Linked DNA regions of Homo sapiens. The protein of the gene in region 2 interacts with the protein of the main gene of each other region in a pairwise test. Each region holds a gene or a part of one and is shown on either strand. Other genes may lie near its edges.

Region 1 (3,422 bases), on a different chromosome or scaffold from region 2:
TGGTGTGATGCCTGGAGCTGTGGTGGCCATCTTGCAACCATGAGGCCTGAAGTCCTGAATGGCCAGAGAGGAGAATATACACCAGAAAAAAAAAAACGGGGGGGTTTGTTACCATGGAAGGAGTGAGGAAGAGCTGCTAGGGAGGCAGCCAACACTCCCGGAGCACATGCAGCCCTTCTGTACCCGACCAGCCTGATGGTGTCTTCCATGAATGCAGTCCCCATCCCTCACTCCAGGAAACTGGGGAAGACAATTCAAGTGGCCTTGATCGTAGACAGTTCCCTTGGAAATAAAAGTACCAAGACAAAGCAGAGAAGTCGGAGAGCTTCAGGTTTGCAGTTTTATAGAAAAGATTTAAGAGGGTTAAAATATTCGTTAAAATGGCCCTCATTCTCCCGGGCCAAGGCTGTGTGGTCACACCTGAGAGCCTCAGCACTGCCCAGTACCCTCTCTCTCCTTGCGGAATTTTTAGTCCAACTGATCACAGAACCCACACCCTAAAAAATACAACAGCATTCTAATGGCATTCTAACGGCATTCTGATGGCATGCTAATGGCATTCTGTTTTGCTTTTTAGCCACCAACAACTCAACCTATTTTCAGAGCAGGTGAAAAACAATTCTGAATCCAGTTTGGAAAGATTCCGGCAACCAACACTTTATGTCAAAGCACAAGGAATGATGACAAAGACTCTGGCGATGGAAGATCAAAAACAGGCTTGTTTTATTTATACACAGAACAACTTATGTACAGCACTCAGGTATGGACTATGTACATGACAATACAAGAGGCGTTTGTTTCCACGGTGGTCACTATATAAATTAAGATTATAAATACGAGGGGGTAAGCCCCACCTGAGGGCACAGAACCTTTTCTCCAAGACTCTTCAGGGATCCTTCCTGCCTCTCTCTGCACAGCAGACCATGAGGCCCGTCTGGCAACACCACAAGGGGACCTGGGCCGGGGCAGCAGAGCAGCCCCCAGACAGCGAGGACACCCCAGTGCGGGACGCCAGCCCAGCACCAAAGGGCAGGTTCCTAAACACTCATGTTCATTCCTTCCTCACATTCTAACTTGTTAGAATTAGAAAAATGGTTTTTATGTAAACAGTGTTGTTCTAATCACTGACAACATATTAATTTTAAACACTTTTGATCCAAACCCAACTCCTTGCCAGGAGTAGGACACTGAGGACTTGGGGTGGCCCTGATGTCCTTGAAGCCACAGTCAGCTGTTTATCCTCCTCATGTCCCCTCCCCACCCAAGTTCCAGCTTGCCTGGGGCTTGTTCTGGGACCCTAAGAACCCCAGGATGCCCACATCGCCAGGCCAGCAGGGCCAATGGTCATGCAGGGACTGCGGGACAGGTTCCCATCATCTCCTGTGTTAGCCCATTCCACCTGGGAAACCAAGCGACTGCCGTGGCTGGCTTATTTCTCCCTCTGCCAACCCCCATCTACAATGTTCTGGGGAAAACAATGAGAGGTGGAAAAGGTAACATACAACCACCTTCCACCCACATCACTTCCAGTGAGGCAGCTAAGTCCACCAACAGAGCGTGGGAGAGTCTTTCATCCAAAAATCCCAACACGTCGCATGCAGCGACAGGAGGCTGTGCTGGGGAAACCCAAGGCCTGGCTCAGCCTCCATACTCTAAGGGCCTCGGGCCAGAACGACCACGAGAGGGGAGCACCCAAAGGCACGCAGAGGGGCCCACCTGGGTGCACTGCAGAGGGGACAGAGGGGCTGTGAGTGGGAGGTGGGCCAGTGCTGTTCACTGCCGCCTGCTCAGGACCAGGGGCTGCTGCAGACCCAGCCCGGTCTATGCCCACCCCCGCAGGTGCAGCCCAGCTTCTGCACATCAGATGGAGTGACGCTGACTAAAGGACCTGGACAGCGCCGGCAGATACTCCCAACACTGTCCTTCTCTTTGGGAGCCAAAGAGAAGCCACGGCAGATACTCCCAACACTGTCCTTCTCTTTGGGAGCCAAAGAGAAGCCACGGCCAGGCAGCCAGGCCAGAGCCATTTCCTCCTCACACCAGGGCAGGGGTTACAGAAACCTCTTCCCAAGACATTTACAAGCACCTCTGAGCCATGACTATCAACGGGAAAAAAGGGCAAAGTCAGTGCCCTGGAGGACCAGGGGCATCCTTCACCTGGGCACTGTCCCTACGGGGCACAGCCCTCTCCCCAGGCGAGCTCCCTGCCCTCTGGCACCATCATCTACTAGTTCAGAGCCAGGACAGAGGCAGGGCAGGGGCAGCGCGGACCACCAAATCAGAGTCCCTGCCAGCACCTCCAGCGACATCACGCCCAGCAGCAGGCGACAAGAAGCCACTGCAGGGGCAGACACTCAGGAGAGCCTCCGGCCTCCAGGCCACCGGACGGGCTGAAGAGGTCAAACCACCCCTGGCCCACCAGGGCCACGCTCCCTGGGAACCACAGAATGGGCAGAAAAAGTTTCCCAGAGCCAGGAAGCATTTCCCACACAGAAACACTCATGTGGACACACATCCTCTGTCTGCAGGGATGCAGCTGGCAAGCTGTCTCACTCACACCCCAAGCTGAACTCGCCTAGAGCGTCCGGAGACAGAAGGGCAGGCGTCCCCAGCCCACAGTGGGGGGAGGGAGGAGCGGGAGGAGAGAGGATGGAGGAGGGAGGAGCACAGGCCCTGTGACACCCAGGGAGGGGCTCCCCGCCTGGGAAACAGCACCCGCTGCCTTGGCTCACGCAGGAGGAATTTTTTTTTCTCTTCACGTCAAATTACAATCAACAAGACTGGAAACATCCATGCTACTTTCAAACCAGGAAAGAGCACGATTTTTGTTCAACAAAAGCTGCATCAACAAACAGGGGCCCTTGCAGGCTGCTGTGCTGGGCCCCAGCCACGTTTCTGAGAACTGGCTGGGGGCCAGGAGGCGGAGCCACACGGTGCGGCCACAGAAGGACACACGGAGAGGAGCCCCCGGGACAATCCAAGCACGAGGCCAGGCAAGCAGTGCCCAGGAGGCCAGACGCCGCTGGATTCCCTGGCCCACAGCACAGGCGGGCGAGAGCTGAGTGGCCGTGACACATGTGCCCCAGGTGACTCTGAGCTGGAGAAAGTGTTGTTTCAAAGGTAGCTGTGTTGTTATGTTCGAGACCCCAGAGCTCTGGTGGACGGTGTCACGGAGGCTTTCTGTAGCTGACAGAGGAAGTAGCACCATGAGAAGGGGGCGGGCTGCAGCATCTGCCCAGGGCCTCAGTGGCAGGAGGCGCAGAGGCCACAGGCTGAGAGGGCGGAGGCTAGGCCTCGGCGGCGGGGATGTGGAGGCCACAGGCTGAGAGGACAGAGGCTAGGCCTCGACGGCGGGGGCGCTGCGGCTCAGCTCCTTGATGCCACACAGGATCCTCTTCATGTGGCCCACCTTGGTCACGCCC
Region 2 (3,917 bases):
GAGGCAGAGTTTGCAGTGAGCCGAGATCACACCACTGCACTCCAGCCTGGGCAAGAGAGTGAGACTGTGTCTCAAAAAAGAAAAAAAAAATTGTCAAACTACAAAGATCTGAAGTTATTTCCAAAACTCTACTTATTCTAACTGATAAATTATCCTTGACCTTTCTGTCCTCATCCAATTGGTCAATATATCCTGCTTAGAGTACCTTGTAAATATTTGTCACATTAGTTTTTTCATCATTCTCATTACCAATGCCTTAATTCAGACCCTCATCATTTCTCATGTGGATTACTTAACAGCTTTTAAGAAATCACACAGCACCCAACCTCAAATCCTTATTAATGGTCTTCCACCAAAGCTCCCACAGTGATCTTTCTAAACACTAAATTTCATTGTGTCACTCCACATATCAAATTTCCTTAAAGGTACTATTCTGTTCTTGCCTCGTCATGGAAATGCACCCAAAAATGATACCTGTGGTTCCAGCAACACATCACAAACATATGGGTCTTCATATATGCTGTTCCATTTGGTTACGATGTCCTCGCTAACTCCCATTTTGAATGCTAATTCCACTCTTCTTCAAGGCTCAAATTTCCAAGTCTTCTGGTAAACCATCTTAAGATACCGCAATCATTAGGTACAGCCTCCTACATGTGCTACCAAGACATTCTATATTGCTTTGGCACAGGCCTTAGCACGGTTTCCTCATGTGAAACCCTCAAAAGATCCTATAAGCTTCTCTAGCCATAAATGATTAGTCACCAGTCTCAAGGGCCCATTTCCCTGGCTGACCAGCAACCTCTAATTTTGGAAGTCAGGCTCGACCAAATGAGCTAGATCAATCAATCAGGTTCTCTCTATTGGGCTGGAAGGTGACTTACAGCAAGCTGTAAGCCAGATGATGAGTACATAATAGGTATGCAAAGAAATGGAGTAGATAGAAACAAACTGAACTGATAATAACCACTGCAGAGAAAGAAGCAGATAGTCATCTTGATTGCTGATACCCTTCTGGTTCCCAGTACTAGTTCCCATGAGGCCTGGCTGTACTACAATCTTTATTTTTCAACGCAGTGAAATCTTTCTTTTTAATAATAATGTCTCTTCTCGATGTACCTTGGGTAACACTGTTTCTGTCCTTTTTAACCAAAAACAATCTGTGATTATAATAACCTACTAAAGCCCTAGCAATTCCAACAGGAATAACTCTTTTGCCTCTGAAATCTTCAAGAGCCTGACAGTCATCTCTGAAGCAACATTTCCTAAACTGACGGATCCTTTTGTGAAGGAATGTAAATGTTAAGTAAGCACTACTGAAAACTAAAACCACATTTCCAAATACCCCTAGTTGAAATCTACTTCATTTCAAACTTAAAACATCCACAGGAATAGGAATTCTGAGTCTGGTTTGTAATGCAACTACATCTGAAGACATGCCACCAACATTTCAGAAGCCTGGGAACTGGTTAAAAAAATGTTGGTCTGTTCTGAACAGCATCATCATGGAAGTATGGATATTAGGTACGGCTACTCCACTGATTTAAGCAATTTTCTTTTCTTTTCTTTTCCTTTTTTTTTTGAGACAGAGTTTCACACTGTCACCCGAGCTGGAGTGCAATGGCGGGATCCCGGCTCACTGCAACCTCCGCCTCCCGGGTTCATGCGATTCTCCTGCCGCCTCCCAAGTAGCTGGGATAACAGGTGCACACCACCACACCCAGCTAATTTTTTGTATTTTTAGTAGAAACAAGATTTCACTATGTTGGCCAGACAGGTCTCGAACTCCTGACCTCGTGATCCGCCTGCCTCGGCTTCCCAAAGCGCTGGGATTACAGGCGTGGGCCACTGCACCCGGCCAATTTTCTTAATCTTCATTTCCAATTACCTTCCTTAAAATAAAGACCAACTTACATTTACTTTATAAAAATGCAAATATTTGAAAATTTCAGGCAAGGTAACACTATTTTATTTTGACCATTATAAACTAAAATTATTAGAGTAGCAAGCCAACAAACAGATAGCTCATCAAACAAATGTGTACTTGCTTGTGCCCAAGAGTTCAAGACCAGCCTGGGCAACAGAAGAAGACCTTGGGGGAAAAAAAAACACATAAAAAGGGATGACATATTCCATTTGGTCTAAATGTATGCATCTATAGAAACTAGCAGGCCAGGCACAGTGGCTCACATCTGTCACCCCAGCACTTTAGGATGCCAAAGCAGGCGGACTGCTTAAGCCCAGGAGTTTGAGTCCAGCCTGCGCAACATGGTGAAATCCTGTCTCTACTTAACTAAATAAATAAATAAAATTTTAGAAATAAATTTTAAGAAGAAAATAGCAGTACCCAAATTTAGCAGATTTTAGTTTGACCTCATTCGTTGACTTAAAGTTTTGGTTTTTTAAAATACAAAATCTTATCAATTTTTCAAAAAAAATTAAAACTTTTCAGTGGGTAGTACACGCAGAAACCAAAGAACCAACTTTTTGGGCATCAATTAAATTTCTTGGCCCTAACTGGTTATTTTGTCTTTTATTAAACATAATGATAGCACTATACAATATTTTTAAAACCAATGAGGTAATAATATGTCCAGTATTTTATCAGTACATTAATACACATCCTTTAGAGGACAGAGGACCTACCAAAAAAGATATGCCAAAACATGAGCGAAGCATACAGTATCATGTACAAAAATATTAGTTGGTGCATTATTTATAACAGGGTTTCTTCACTGGGCTTCAGTGGCCCTATGGATTAGCACAATTCATCCTGTTTAAGACTACTTATAAGTTGCTAACATTTACCCACTAAATGCCAACAGGCCCTCTAATCATTGTTGACAATCAAAAAGACACACCTCCCAATTTCTAGCTAAAATCCACTAATTTGTAATACCAAAAAAAGCAATCAAAATATCCAACAATAGAATTTCAAAAACACACAATACACTCAGAAATTACTAATCTCTAAATATTACTATAAATAAGACAGCAATATGGAAAATGCTTATGACAAAGTGAAAAAAGTAAAATAACAGTGTGATTCCTTTGATTACGCTATATTACATATATTACATAATGATAGCACTATACAATTATTTTTAAAACCAATGAGGTAATATGTCCAATATTTATTAACGCATGTGAAAAGGACTACAGGGAAATGGAGAGAAGCTTTGATAGAGTGGTGGGATCACAAGTGCTGTTTCCTTTTCTCTATTTTCTATAAAGTGGCTTTAGTGGTTACATTTTTTTTAACTAAATAAACTTAAGTAGTTGACAGATTTTTCCATTCTTTCTTAGAACTTTAGAAGACCAGAGAAGTGACGGAAATCAACAAGCAAAAAAAATCAACACAGGAAAAATGTCTAGTGTTACAAATCAGGGTAGGCTTACCCTTCAGGTTTTAGTTACTTGAAGGGGGTCACGGGGAACTTACAGGGTGCAGATAATCCTGACTGTGTGCTGGTTATATAGGTATGTTTACTTTGTAAAGATTCATCAACCTGCGCTTACGACCTGTGCACTTCTCTGTAGGTACATTAAACCTCAATGAAAAATTTACTGAAAAAACAACAAGGATTTCTTACTTGTGTAAGAAAGTTTCACAAGCTGTGAGATTGATTTATTGTGCAAAAAGTTAATAGTAATTCTACATATTTATCAACTGGCAGCACAAAAAAAGGATGACAAACTACAAATAAGAATTCTTAATGCTTACAGTGAATGTTCACAAGAATTCCCTAGCCTTAAAAAATTCTTAACGTTTAAAAGATAAAGATGAAACTCAACCACTGCATCATGCCAAAAGAATTAAATTTAAAATCTGAATTTTCATATTAGCAACTTAAGTCATTTAAGTCATTTTTTTTTAAGAGATAGGGGTCTCAATATGTTACTCAGGTTGGAATCAA

Evidence for each region.
Region 1: the proteins of SREK1 (region 2) and DGKD interact in a two-hybrid assay, tested with the Homo sapiens proteins (one study listed by BioGRID).

The regions. Positions count from the first base shown.
Region 1 is NC_000002.12:233,469,376-233,472,797, reverse strand, and holds the end of DGKD (diacylglycerol kinase delta), read right to left. Parts: coding exon 3,338-3,422; coding exon of another isoform or gene 3,288-3,337; 3' UTR 700-3,287; downstream 1-699.
Region 2 is NC_000005.10:66,147,015-66,150,931, reverse strand, and holds part of SREK1 (splicing regulatory glutamine/lysine-rich protein 1), read right to left. Parts: intron 1-3,917. UniProt on the Homo sapiens protein: Participates in the regulation of alternative splicing by modulating the activity of other splice facors. Inhibits the splicing activity of SFRS1, SFRS2 and SFRS6. Augments the splicing activity of SFRS3.